Homo sapiens: one gene and its partners. The protein of the gene in region 1 purifies or fractionates together with the protein of each later gene. This does not show direct contact. Each region holds a gene or a part of one and is shown on either strand. Other genes may lie near its edges.

Region 1 (3,500 bases):
TCTTTTATCAATGGGGTTGGTATAATTAGTCCCATTTTACAAATGAGACTGAAGCTCAAAGAGAGGAAGGGAATTGCTACAGATACAGCTCTTAGATGGTAGAGCTGGTTGGGCATGGAGGCTCACACCTGTAATCCCAGTACTTTGGGAGGCTGAAGTAGGTGGATCACTTGAGGTCAGGAGTTCAAGACCAGCCTGGCCAACACAGTGAAACCTCATCTTTACCAAAAATACAAAAATTAGCCAGGTGTGGTGTTGTGTGCATGTAGTTCCAGCTACTCAGGTGGCTGAGGCAGGAGAATCACTTGAACCCAGGAGGTGGAGGTTGCAGTGAGCCAAGATTGCTCTACTGCACTCCAGCCTAGGCGACAGAGTGAGACTCTGTCTCAAAGGAAAAAAAAGGGGCTGGGCGCAGTGGCTCACACCTGTAATCCTAGCACTCTGGGAGGCCAAGGCAGGTAGATCACTTGAGGTCAGAAGTTTGAGACCAGCCTGGCCAACGTGGTGAAACCCCATTTCTACTAAAAATACAAAACTTAGCCGGGCGTGTCGGTGGGCACCTGTAGTCCCAGCTACTCGGGAGGCTGAGGCAGGAGAATCAGTTGAACCCGAGAGGTGGAGGTTTCAGTGAGCCGAGATTGTGCTATTGTACTCCAGCCTGGGTGACAGAGGGAGACTCTGTCTCCAAAAAAAAAAAAAAAAAAAAAGGTAGAGCTGAGTGGCTGAGTGGGTATTATGCTCAGGTTGTCCTGATCTCAAAAAAAGAAAAGTTTTTTTTTTTGTTTGTTTGTTTTTTTTTGAGACAGGCTTGCTCTGTCACCCAGGCTGGAGAGCAGTGGTGCCATCATAGCTCACTGCAGCCTCAACCTCCCAGACTCAAGCAATCCTCTCACCTCAGCCTCTGAAGTAGCTGGAACCACAGGCGTGTGCCACCATGCCTGGCTCATTTTTAAATTTTTTTGTAGCAATGGGGTCTTACTATGTTACCCAAGTTGGTCTCAAACTCCTGGGCTTAAGCGATCCTCCTGCCTCAGCCTCCCAAAGTGTTGGGATTACAGGTGTGAGCCAGTTTACCTGGCCACAGATTTCATCTTCCCAGCTGGCATGTGCTTTCTGAGGACAGGACACTGTAGAAAGATTGAGGGGTTGGGGCAGGGCTGGGGGTTTCAGTCTCTGCTCAGGGGATACTGTATGGGTGGGTAGAGCTCTTAGCAAAAATTGGTGAGAAGGCCAGAGGCTCAGAGATAAGAAATCTCACTTCCAGTCTGGTGTTAGTGGGAGTTCAGAGAGGGCTTGTGGAGGAGGTGGAACTGTGGTTTGACAAAGCTTTTAAAAAATTATAATGAAATACACATAACCTAAAATTTACTGTCTTAGCTTTTTTTGTTGTTGTTTTTTTTTGAGATGGAGTCTCACTTTGTCACCCAGGCTGGAGTGCAGTGGTATGATCTTGGCTCACTGCAACCTCTGCCTCCTGGGTTCAAGCGATTCTCCTGCTTCAGCCTCCTGAGTAGCTGGGACTACAGGTGGATGTCACCACGCCTGGCTCATTTTTGTATTTTTAGTAGAGACGGGGTTTCCCCATGTTGACCAGGCTGGTCATGAACTCCTGACCTCAAGTGATCCGCCTACCTCGGCCTCCCAACGTGCTGGGATTACAGGCATGAGCCACCACACCTGGCCAGACTTGCAGTTTAACAATGACATTCCTATCACATTGATCTGAATAAGGCTGCTCATAGCCAATGTGGGTGCAGGCTTATGAGAATTGCTTATTTCCCATTCCTGGTGGGAGTGTATGTAGGTAGAGCTTGGCCAGGGCATTTTGGCAAAATCTAGCAATGTTGAAGATCCCTTGTCAGGGCCTTGAGCATTTCTTTTGGACTGTACTATTTTGGTGGGCTTTTGTTGACTTCCAGTTGCCAGTTTATTGTTCTAGAACCACTTATAAGCATAGTAGGCTAGAGGTGCTGGGGAACTAAAACCTCCATCTAGCAGTCCTCACCCAATGGCTGATGAGAGTTGGTGTATAAATATCCCAGCTCCCTTGCCTCCTGATTAAGCTCATGGTGGTGGTAACTGGCTCAACCCAGCCTTCGTTGGCAGCTATCCCTTCTCTGTACCACTTCTTTTCTCCTATTTCTTTTATTTTTTTCTTTTGAGACAGGGTCTCACTCTGTCACCCAGGCTGGACTGCAGTGGTACAATCATAGCTCTCTGCAACCTTGAACTTCCAGGCTCAGGTGCTCCTCCCACCTCCTCCTCCTGAGTAGTTGGGACTACAGGCGTATGCCACCAAGCCCGGCTAGTTTTTTTTGTATTTTTTGTAGAGATGGAGTTTTGTCATGTTGCCCAGGCTGGTCTCGAACTCCTGAGGTCAAGTGATCCTGCAGCCTTGGCCTCCCAAAATGCTACAGTTACAGGCGTGAGCCACCACACCCGGGCCCACTTCCCTTTCTCTATGTTTGTGTTCCTCAGGTCTCCCAAACATACTATGTCCATCTCAATCTTTGTCTCTGAGTCAGCTTCTGGAGGAACCCAGACCAGGATACCCTCTGATTCAGCACTTTCTCTTCTCAAATCTTCTCTGACAACATTTTTCTCATATGTGCTCAGAGAGTCATGTGTGAGGAAGCTCATTGGCTATATTGAAAAACTAGGCATACCCAAATGCCCAGTAGGGAAATGTTTACCTCAGTGATGTATCACCCATAGTATGAAATACTCTGCTGCAGTGAAAGACTCTGTGGGGAGGCAGGGGAGAACAGTGGGCCCTAGAGCCTAAAACTGCCTGGGTTCCAACCTTGACCCTCCCACTGAGTGCACACGGACATTGTCTCAGTCTCCTTAACTGTTTAATGGGCATGATAATAGTTCCTTCCTCGCAGACTGTTGTGCAGAGTAATTGAGATACATATTTTTTTTTTTTGAGACAAGATCTCATTCTATTCCCCAAGCTAAATGCAGTATTGCAGCCTCAACCTCCTGGGCTCAGGTGATCCTCCCACCTCAGTCTCCTGAGTAGCTGGGACTACAAGTGCACATCACCATGCCTACCTAATTTTTTATTTTATTTTTTTGCAGAGATGGGGTCTTGCTATGTTGTCCAGGCTGGTCTTGAAATCCTGGGTTCAAGCAATCCTCCCACCTCAACCTCCCAAAGTGCTGGGATTATAGGCATGAGCCACTGCCCCCAGCCATCATAGAATTATTGTACAGATTAATTGAGATACATTTTAAGCTCTTAGCACTATGCTTTGCATATAGAAATCACTATAGTATGTTTCAAATTCTGTATATTAAGGTATATTAATATATATATATATATAATGGTAAAAGCAAATTATAGAAACAAGAGATTTGGGATGGATCCATTTCTGTTAAACAAAACAAAGTGTGTAATAGGATATATATACAAATATAATTGATCTGAGAAATGTCTGTAAGGATGTGCTTCAAACTAATTATGGTGGGACCACTGGAGAGGGGGATTTACGGAG
Region 2 (3,500 bases), on another chromosome or scaffold:
ATTTACAGATGATTTTGTTGTTCAATTAACGAAGAACTGATACTGGTATAATTTGATCACCTAGGCTTGTGGTTCCTACACGGGGATGTAGTAGCCTTCTCGAAACAGACATTTGAGCTCCTCTGGCTTTCATCCGAGCTTCTGGTGTTTAGTAGGAAATAGTCTCCGAAGTGCAGGTCATGTAGTCCTAGTGTTTTATAGTTATAAAGCTGAATTGTTCTTACAGGAGTTACAGAGGTCTATAAAGAAAATGTCCATAATCTCTCTGTCTTCAAGTTCTAGTTCCTTAGCCCTAAAGTCAGCAAAGTTAACATTTGGTGTCCATTATTCCCACACTTTTCTCTTTGTTCATATCATCGTGTATAAACATATACACAGGCTGGGCATGGTGGCTTTCACCTGTAATCCCAGCACTTTGGGAGGCTGACGCTGAGGTGAGAGGATTGCTTGAGGCTAGGAGTTCAGGACCATCCTGGGCATTAAGGGAAGACCCCATTTCTACAAAAAATAAAATATTACAGCTGGGTGCAGTGGTGTGTACCTGTAGTCCGAGCTACTCGGTAGGCTGAGGCAGGAAGATTGAGCCCAGGAATTTGAGGCTGCAGTGAGCTATGATTGTGCCACTGCACTCCAGCCTCTATGATAGAGGGAAAAAAAAATCCATATACAGACATTGATTATTTTATTTTTCTTTATGGAAGTGGGATTATATTATGCGTGTAATTTTTATAACTTTTCTTAACAGTATGTGAGGGTCATCCTTCCAGATCATTACATATAGCTCTAACATTGTTAATAGCTGCGTGATGCTCTATAATACTGGTATACCCTATATGCCACTTATTAATAAACTTAAGTTACTTTCATTTTTTCCATCATAAGTAAGACTGCTTAATCATTGGAATAATAATAGATTTTGTTAAAAAGGCACCCCTTTGGTATAAATCTCAAATGGCCACTATTTTAGAAACATTAACATGGAAAATAATATTTCTTCTAAAGTTAAGATTAACAGAACTGACTTTAATTTGTTTTATTTTAGTTATTAGATCTTTTGATGTCAACAAACCTGGCTGTGAAGTTGATGACCTTAAGGGAGGTGTAGCTGGTGGTAGTATCCTAAAAGGAGTATTAAAGGTAAAATGGGTTTTGGTTGTTGTGATTTTGGGTTTTTTTTTTTTGTTGTTTGTTTGTTTGTTTTATCCTTGTCTTAATCAGGAAAAAAAGTATGGACAATCCAAATTGAAAAATAAAATTTTTTCCATGGTTTCTGGTATTTGATGTAGAGTTCTCTTTTTTAATATTCTTTTTTTCTCTCTTCAAACTTCACTCCTCCCACCCTTCTAGACCTCTGAATCCACAATCTACCTTCATGAGATCCACCTTTTTAGCTTCCACATATACAGATGAGTGAGAATGTGTGATATTTGTCTTTTTGTGCCTGGCTTATTTTACTTAACAAAATGGCCTCCAATTCTAGATGTGCTGCTGCAAATGGCAGAATTTTTTTTTATGGCTGCATAATACTTCATTGCATATATATATATGCTGCCATTGCTTTTCTTTTCTTTTTTTTTTTTTTCTTGAGGCGGAGTCTTGCTGTTTCGCCCAAGCTGGAGCGATCTCAGCTCACTGCAACCTTCACCTCCTGGGTTCAAGCGATTCTCCCTGCCCCAGCCTCCCAAGTAGCTGGGATTACAAGCACCCCCCACCATGCCCAGCTAATTTTTGTATTTGTAGTAAAGACAGGGTTTCACCATGTTGGCCAGGCTGGTCTTGAACTCCTTACCTCAAGTGATCCACCCGCCTCGGCCTCCCAAAGTGTTGGGATTATAGGCGTGAGCCACTTTGCCCGGCCTATATACTGCATTTTCTTTATCCATTCATCTGTTCATGGGCACTTAGGTTGATTCCATGTTTGGCTATTGTGAACTGTGCTACAATAAACATGGGAGTGCAGATACCTCTTTGATAATATTGCTTCCCTTTCTGGTGAATGTATACCCACTAGTGAAACTGATGGATCATATGGTAGCTGTATTTTCAGGTTTTCAAGGAACCTCCATACTGTTCTCCATGGTAGCTATACTAATTTACATGCTCTGATAATAGTTTTTTTTTTGTTTTGTTTTTTGAGCACAGTGGCATGATCTTGACTCACTGCAACCTCCACCTCCTGGGTTCAGGTGATGATTCTCCTGCCACAGCCTCCCGACTTGCTGGGGCTACAGGCACTCGCAACCTCGCCCAGCTAATTTTTTTGGTAGAGATGGGGTTTTGCCATATTGGCCAGGCTGGTCTCTTAACTCCTGACCTCAGGTGATCTGCCTGCCTCAGCCTCCCAAAGTGCTGGGATTACAGGCATAAGCCACCACGCCCAGCTATATTTCTTTGTTTTCTGTTATGTCTTTTGAATGTGTCTGACTTGAAAATTTATAGACTTGTAAGTATGGAGCACATTTGATGTGGTAATAGACTTGTGTGGTGGGTAGTTAACAACAGTTGGATGGTTCTGGTTTTGACAGTCTCGTTCACATCTTTTTTTTTTTTTTTTTTTAAGAATAATGATCTTTGAAATACAGGAATGATTGCCTTTTCAGTTTTATGGTCTTCCGGTTGGACCTTTATTATTATTTTATTTTATTTTATTTTTGAGACAGAGTCTCTCTTTGTCACCCAGGCTGGAGTGCAGTGGTGCGATCTCGGTTCACTGCAACCTCTGCCTCCCAGGTTCTAGCAATTCTGCCGCAGCCTCCTGAGTAGCAGGGATTACAGGTGCGTGCCACCACACCTGGCTAATTTTTGTGTTTTTAGTAGAGACGGGGTTTCACTATGTTGGCTGGGCTGGTCTCGAACTCCTGACCTCAGGTGATCCACCCGCCTCGGCCTCCCAAAATGCTAGGATTACACATGTGAGCCACCGCACCCAGTCCCTGTTGGAACTTTTGATAGGTAAATGATAATTTTGCGTAACACAGTAATTCTAATTACTAATTATATGTTTACAGGTGGGCCAGGAGATAGAAGTAAGACCTGGTATTGTTTCCAAAGATAGTGAAGGAAAACTCATGTGTAAACCAATCTTTTCCAAAATTGTATCACTTTTTGCGGAGCATAATGATCTGCAATATGCTGCTCCAGGCGGTCTTATTGGTAAGGATTTTTTTCTCATCTCTTTTAATTTGTGGCTATTTGTGGTACTTTTCATGGGGGATGGATTACCAAAAGGGACATATTACAGATTTTTAATTGGGTATTTTAATAATAGAGTAGGGTGGGGAACAATCATGTGGTTAAGCTCTTGTTTTAGGTTATAAGATGGTTTCATGGGTTTGTAAAAATTATTTTTAAACACAAAGGATACATTTTGATCAAATATAGAGTAACTCCTTTTTAGCAATATAAAAAAATAAATTTGATGACTTATCATGTAAGATATTTACCTACACTTATGTTTTTGTTAACATGATTTTTGTGCTAGATAATGGTTGCCTTTTTTT
Region 3 (3,500 bases), on another chromosome or scaffold:
TATTTAGTGAGACAGGGTTTCACCATGTTAGCCAGGCTGATCTCGAACTCCCGACCTCAGGTGATCCACCCACCTTGGCCTCCCAAAGTGCTGGGATTACAGGCGTGAGCCACCGCACCCGGCCCACATTTAAGTCTTTAATCCATCTTGAATTAATTTTTGTATAGGGTGTAAGGAAGGAATCCAGTTTCAGCTTTCTACATATGTCTAGCCAGTTTTCCCAGCACCATTTATTAAATAGGGAATCCTTTCCCCATTTCTTGTTTTTGTCAGGTTTGTCAAAGATCAGATGGTTGTAGATGTGTCATACTATTTCCAAGGACTCCGTTCTGTTCCATTGGTCTATATCTCTGTTTTGATACCAGTACCATGCTGTTTTGGTTACTGTAGCCTTGTAGTATAGTTTGAAGTCAGATAGCGTGATGCCTCCAGCTTTGTTCTTTTGGCTTAGGATTGTCTTGGCAAGGCAGGCTCTTTTTTGGTTCCATGTGAACTTTCAAGTAGTTTTTTCCAATTCTGTGAAGAAATTGGTAAGCTTGTGAAGTCATTGGTAGCTTGATGGGGATGGCATTGAGTCTATAAATTACCTTGGGCAGTATGGCCATTTTCACAATATTGATTCTTCCTATCCATGAGCATGGAATGTTCTTCCATTTCTTTGTGTCCTCTTTCATTTCGTTGAGCAGTGGTTTGTAGTTCTCCTTGAAGAGGTCCTTCACATCCCTTGTAAGCTGGATTCCTAGGTATTTTATTCTCTTTGAAGGAATTGTGAAGGGGAGTTCACTCATGATTTGGCTCTCCGTTTATCTGTTATTGGTGTATAAGAATGCTTGTGATTTTTGCACATGATTTTGTATCCTGAGACTTTGCTGAAGTTGCTTATCAGCTTAAGGAGATTTTGGGCTGAGACAATGGAGTTTTCTAAATGTACAATCATGTCATCTGCAAACAGGGACAATTTGACTTCCTTTTTTCCTAATTGAATACCCTTTATTTCTTTCTCCTGCCTGATTGCCCTGGCCGGAACTTCCAACACTATGTTGAATTGGAGTGGTGAGAAAGGGCATCCCTGTCTTGTGCCAGTTTTCAAAGGGAATGCTTCCAGTTTTTGCCCATTCAGTATGATATTGGCTGTGGGTTTGTCATAAATGGCTCTTATTATTTTGAGAAACATCCTATTAATACCTAGTTTATTGAGAGTTTTTAGCATGAAGGGCTGTTGAATTTTGTCAAAGGCCTTTTCTGCATCTATTGAGATAATCATGTGGTTTTTGTCTTTGGTTCTGTTTATATGATGGATTACGTTTATTGATTTGCGTATGTTGAACCAGCCTTGCATCACAGGGATGAAGCCAACTTGATCATGGTGGATAAGTTTTTGATGTGCTGCTGGATTCAGTTTGCCAGTATTTTATTGAGGATTTTTGGATCGATGTTCATCAGGGATATTGTCTAAAATTCTCTTTTTTTTGTTGTGGTCTCTGCCAGGCTTTGGTATCAGGATGATGTTGGCCTCATAAAATGAGTTAGGGAGGATTCCCTCTTTTCCTATTGATTAGAATAGTTTCAGAAGGAATGGTACCAGCTCTTTTTGTACCTCTGGTAGAACTCGGCTGTGAATCCGTCTGGTCCTGGACTTTTTTTTGGTTGGTAGGCTATTAATTATTGCCTCAGTTTCAGAACCTGTTATTGGTCTATTCAGGGATTCAACTTCTTCCTGGTTTAGTCTTGGGAGGGTGTATGTGTCCAGGAATTTATCCATTTCTTCTAGATTTTCTAGTTTGTTTGTGTAGAGGTGTTTATAGTATTCTCTGATGGTAGTTTGTATTTCTGTGGGATCGGTGTTGATATCTCCTTTTTCGTTTTTTATTGCGTCTGTTTGATTCTTCTCTCTTCTTTATTAGTCTTGCTAGCGGTCTTATCAATTTTGTTGATCTTTTCAAAAAACCAGCTCCTGGATTCATTGATTTTTTTTGAAGGGTTTTTTTGTGTGTCTGTCTCCTTCACTTCTCCTCTGATCTTAATTATTTCTTGCCTTCTGCTAGCTTTTGAATGTGTTTGCTCTTGCTTCTCTAGTTCTTTTAATTGTGATGTTAGGGTGTCAGTTTTAGATCTTTCCTGCTTTCTTTTGTGGACATTTAGTGCTATAAATTTCCCTTTACACGCTGCTTTAAATGCGTCCCAGAGATTCTGGTATGTTGTGTCTTTGTGCTCATTGGTTTCCAAGAACACTTTATTTCTGCCTTCATTTCGTTATTTATCCAGTAGTCATTCAGGAGCAGGTTGTTCAGTTTCCATGTAGTTGAGCGGTTTTGAGTGAGTTTCTTAATCCTGAGTTCTAGTTTGACTGCACTGTCGTCTGAGAGACAGTTTGTTATAATTTCTGTTCTTTTACATTTGCTGAGGAGTGCTTTACTTCCAACTATGTGGTCAATTTTGGAATAAGTGTGATGTGGTGCTGAGAAGAATGTATATTCTGTTGATTTGGGGTGGAGAGTTCTGTAGATGTCTATTAGGTCCGCTTGGTGCAGAGCTGAGTTCAATTCCTGGATATCCTTGTTAACTTTGTCTCGTTGATCTGTCTAATGTTGACAGTGGGGTGTTAAAGTTTCCCATTATTATTGTGTGGGAGTCTAAGTCTCTTTGTAGGTCTCTGAGGACTTGCTTTATGAATCTGGGTGCTCCTGTATTGTGTGCATATTTTTTTTTTTTTTTTTTGAGAAGGAGTCTCACTCTGTCGCCCAGGCTGGAGTGCAGTGGCGGGATCAGAGCTCACTGCATCCTCAAACTCCTGGGCTCAAGCAGTCCTCCTAACTCAGCCTCCTAAAGAGCTGGGATCACAGGTGCACACCTCCATGCCTAGCCAATTTGTAAATGTTTTGTAGAGATGAGATCCCATTGTGTTGCCCAGGCTGATGTCAAACTCCTGGCCTCAAGTGATTCTCCCACCCCAGCCTCCAAAAGTGATGGGATTACAGGCGTGAGCCACCACACCCAGCCAGGAAATATTTTAGAGTCAGAATAGATGAGACTGTTTTCTGTTGTTCTATAATAGCCTCAGATGAGTAATTAGGCAAGTGATGTAAAACCTTTGACTCTTTTCTTTGGGATCAGGTAGAGCCTGCTGATAAGGAGTTCTGATATGAAGGCAAGATTTTCCTTTATTCTGTAAGAAAGAACCTTATCCTTGGAAGTAAGGGGTCAGCAAAAGTTACAGGAAAACAGGAAATTTCCCTTCTTATTCTGCACTACTTTTTTCTGACTTTTCATTTATGGACCTGCTTTAGGAACAGCGACATCTCACTCATGAAAATGTACAGCGCAAGCAAGCCAGGACAGGAGAAGAGCGAGAAGAAGAGGAAGAAGAGCAGATCAGTGAGAGTGAGAGTGAAGATGAAGAGAACGAGATCATTTACAACCCCAAAAACCTGCCACTTGGCTGGGATGGCAAAGTAAGTCTCAGCACTACCACTTTCTCCCCATTCCCCATTTTGGAAACA
Region 4 (3,500 bases), on another chromosome or scaffold:
TACTTCCTGCTGTGATGGATGGAGATTTCACTTTCTTACACCATCTCCCTCCCTCCCCTGCCCCCGTCTCTCAAGATAGGAAGAGCTCTATTTTAACCTAAATCAGGTTTAAAGTGTCTACATTATTAATATATATAAATGATGATCACAGACAGCCAAGTAAAGTCCTTTGATTATATTTCCTTTCTTAGAGGGCTTTTCATTTCGCTGCAGAATTTTTGTTGCAATACTTGTCTTTTTATTTATCTATTTATTTATTTTGAGATGGAGTTTCACTCTTGTTCCCCAAGCTGGAGTGCAGTGGCGTGATCTCAGCTCACTGCAACCTCTGCCTCCCAGGTTCAAGCGATTCTCCTGCCTCAGCCTCCCGAGTAGCTGGGATTACAGGCGTGTGCTATGACACCTGGGTAATTTTTTAATTTTAGTGGAAATGGGGTTTCACCATGTTGGTCAGGCTGGTCTTGAACTCCTGATCTCAGGTGATCCACCTGCCTCGGCCTCCCAAAGTGCTGGGATTACAGGCACGAGCCACTGTGCCTGGCCCTGTCCTTTTCTTTTAAAGCTCTGTGTCATATGAGTTATTCTATTGCAGTCCCTTGTCTTCTCAGGAAGTGCAGTGTTAACCCTAGCTCCACCCCTAACTAGCCCAGTGACCTTGCACAAGTCCCTTCTCTTTTCTGAGCCTTGGTTTCCTCATCAGTAGAAAGAGAGCTAGGCTCCCTTCTTGTTCTCATTCTAAACCTCAGAACCTATCACCCCACCCACCTCACAGGCAGTAATATTATTACTCCTCAGTTAATATTATCTGAGAAGTCTTTACTCCAGGGTGGGGCAGCCCCAGGACCTGACAGATGGCAGAGAAACCAAAACAGGCAGGGGCAGGGGGAGGGAACAAACAAGCTAGCTGGGCCTGCCCTGTATGGTCTAGTTCACCCCTGCAGTTTAGGGGGCTGCTCTGTGGGGTGGTATGGTTGTATCTATTACTCTTTTCCTCCCCTGCTATCCCCGTTGGTTTTTGCTCTCCACAGCCTCTGCTTGTAGGGGCATCATTTACAGTCCCCAAACTCCCCAAGCTCCTACTCTACCCCCAGCTCTCTTTGTACCCCTTCTGCTTATGTTACACTCAAAGTTTCCCAAAAAGTAGTTATAAAAATACTAACTTTTGGTAGCAGCTTTATTGAAATATAGTTTGCATACTGTACAATTCACTCATTTAAAAAATATAGTTCAGGGCAGGCATGGTGGCTCATGTCTGTAACCCCAGCACTTTGGGAGGTCAAGGTGGGTGGATCACCTGAGGTCAGGAGTTTGAGACCAGCCTGGCCAACATGGCAAAACCCTGTCTCTACTGAAAATACAAAAATTAGCCAGGCATGGTGGCAGGTGCCTGTAATTCCAGCTACTCGGGAGGCTGAGGCAGGAGAATCGTTTGAACCCGGCAGAGGTTGCAGTGAGTGAGATCATGCCATTGCACTCCAGCCTGGGGAACAAGAGTGAAACTCTGTGTAAAAAAAAAAAAAAAAAAAACCGTTCAGTGGTTTTTAATATATTCACAGAGTTGTACAACCCATAATCGTAGTCAGTTTTAGAGCATTTTAGCACCCCAAAAAGAAATCTCATGGCCTTTAGCACCACCACCTATTTCCCCCAACCCCACCCCTTGGCAACCATAGATTTGCCTATTCTGGGCATGTTTAATAAATGGAACAATACAATACGGGGTCTTTAATGATTCGCTTCTTTCACTTAGCATAATATTGTCAAAGTTTATTCATGTTGTATCAATATCAGTACTTAATTACTTTTTATGGCTGAAAAATACTCCATGTGGCTATACAATTTTTTATTTATCAGTTGATGCATATGTTAGTTCTGCTTTTTAGCTATTACAAATAATGGTGCCATGAACATCCATGTACAAGTTTTTGTGTGGACCTGTATTTTCATTTCTCTTGGGTGTATGCCTAGGAGTAGAATTGCTGGGTCAAATGGTAACTGTGTGTTTAAAAATTTGAGGAAATACCAATCGATTTTCCAAAGTTGCGGCACCATCTTACATTCCCATTAGCAACGGTATTCTCAGTTTCTCCACATCCTTGCCAACACTTGTTATTGTCTGTCCTTTTCATTATAGCCATCCTAGTGGGTGTGAAGTGGTATCGATTTGCATTTCCCTAATAACTAAGGTTATTAATCTTTCTGTGTGCTTATTGGCTATGTGTATATCTTTGGAGAAAAATCTGTTCCTTGCCTATTTTTAAAATCAGGTTCTCTTTATTAATGAGTTTTAAGAATTCATTTTTTAAATTTATTTTTATTTAAAAAAATTTTTTTGTAGAAACAGGGTATCACTCTGTTGCCCAGGCTGGTCTTGAACTCCTGGCTTAAGCGATTCTCCCATCAACCTCCCAAAGTACTAGGATTACAGGCATGAGCCACTGTGCCCAGCCAAGAATTATTTACATATTTTATATACTTAGCAAATACATGATTTGCAAATATTTTCTTCTATTCTGTGGACTTACTTTCTTGATGGCGTCCTTTGAAGCACAATTTTTTTTATTTTGATGTTTAGTTTATTTTTTATTTTGTTGCTTGTGTTTTTGTTGTTATTACATAATTCAAGGTCACAAAGATGTACTCTTATGAGTTTTATAGTTTTAGCTCTTACATAGATCTTTGATCCATTTTGAGTTAATTTATTATATATTACATTATTTATACCTCACACCATAAAACAAATTTTGCATGTGGGTATCCAGTTGTCCTAGAATCATTTGTTGAAAAGAATATTCTTTCTACATCTCTTGTCAATTGACCATAAATGTGAGGATTTATTTCTGGATTCTCAGTTCAATTCCATTAATTTAATCATTGTTCATTGTCTTCATGGTAACACCACACAATTTTGATTACTGTAGTTTTGAGTATGTTTTGAAATCAGGAAGTGTGAGTCTTCCATTTTTGTTCAGTTCCTCCCACCCCCAAGATTGTCTTGATTATCCTGAGTGAGTCCCTTGAATTTCCATATGAATTTTAGGATCAGCTTGTCAATTTCTGCAAAGAAACCAGATGAGATTTTCATAGAGATTATGTTGAATCTGTAGGTTAGTTTGGGCAGTATTGCCGTGTTAACAATATTAAGCCTTCCAACCTATGGACATGGGATATCTTTTTATTTATTTAGGTCTTTAATATTTTCAACAAGGTTTTATTGCTTTCAGAGTGTATGTTTTGTACTTATTTTGTTAAGTTTATTTCTAAGTATTGTATTATTTTTGATGCTACTATAAATAGAACTGTTTTCTCCATTTTATTTTCATATTGTGCATTGCTGGTATATAGAGATACTACTGATTTTTATATGCTGATATTGTATCCTACAAACTTGCTGAACTTGTTTATGACTTTCAATAGTTTTTAGTGGATTTTTCTTGGATTTTCTATAACAAGACTATGTTATCTGCAAATAGGAATAGTTTTACTTTTTCCTTTCTAAT

Evidence for each region. Proteins that work in one complex are often made in the same cells at the same time.
Region 2: the proteins of SLC8B1 (region 1) and EIF2S3 purify together in Homo sapiens (affinity purification with mass spectrometry; one large-scale study listed by BioGRID and IntAct). This does not show direct contact.
Region 3: the proteins of SLC8B1 (region 1) and SF3A3 purify together in Homo sapiens (affinity purification with mass spectrometry; one large-scale study listed by BioGRID and IntAct). This does not show direct contact.
Region 4: the proteins of SLC8B1 (region 1) and CYFIP2 purify together in Homo sapiens (affinity purification with mass spectrometry; one large-scale study listed by BioGRID and IntAct). This does not show direct contact.

What each region holds. Positions count from the first base shown.
Region 1 is NC_000012.12:113,321,610-113,325,109, reverse strand, and holds part of SLC8B1 (mitochondrial sodium/calcium exchanger protein isoform 1 precursor), read left to right. Parts: intron 1-3,500. UniProt on the Homo sapiens protein: Mitochondrial sodium/calcium antiporter that mediates sodium-dependent calcium efflux from mitochondrion, by mediating the exchange of 3 sodium ions per 1 calcium ion.
Region 2 is NC_000023.11:24,064,956-24,068,455, forward strand, and holds part of EIF2S3 (eukaryotic translation initiation factor 2 subunit 3), read left to right. Parts: intron 1-1,042; coding exon 1,043-1,137; intron 1,138-3,008; coding exon 3,009-3,153; intron 3,154-3,500. UniProt on the Homo sapiens protein: Member of the eIF2 complex that functions in the early steps of protein synthesis by forming a ternary complex with GTP and initiator tRNA.
Region 3 is NC_000001.11:37,969,523-37,973,022, reverse strand, and holds part of SF3A3 (splicing factor 3A subunit 3), read left to right. Parts: intron 1-3,287; coding exon 3,288-3,452; intron 3,453-3,500. UniProt on the Homo sapiens protein: Component of the 17S U2 SnRNP complex of the spliceosome, a large ribonucleoprotein complex that removes introns from transcribed pre-mRNAs.
Region 4 is NC_000005.10:157,272,623-157,276,122, forward strand, and holds part of CYFIP2 (cytoplasmic FMR1-interacting protein 2), read left to right. Parts: intron 1-3,500. UniProt on the Homo sapiens protein: Involved in T-cell adhesion and p53/TP53-dependent induction of apoptosis. Does not bind RNA. As component of the WAVE1 complex, required for BDNF-NTRK2 endocytic trafficking and signaling from early endosomes.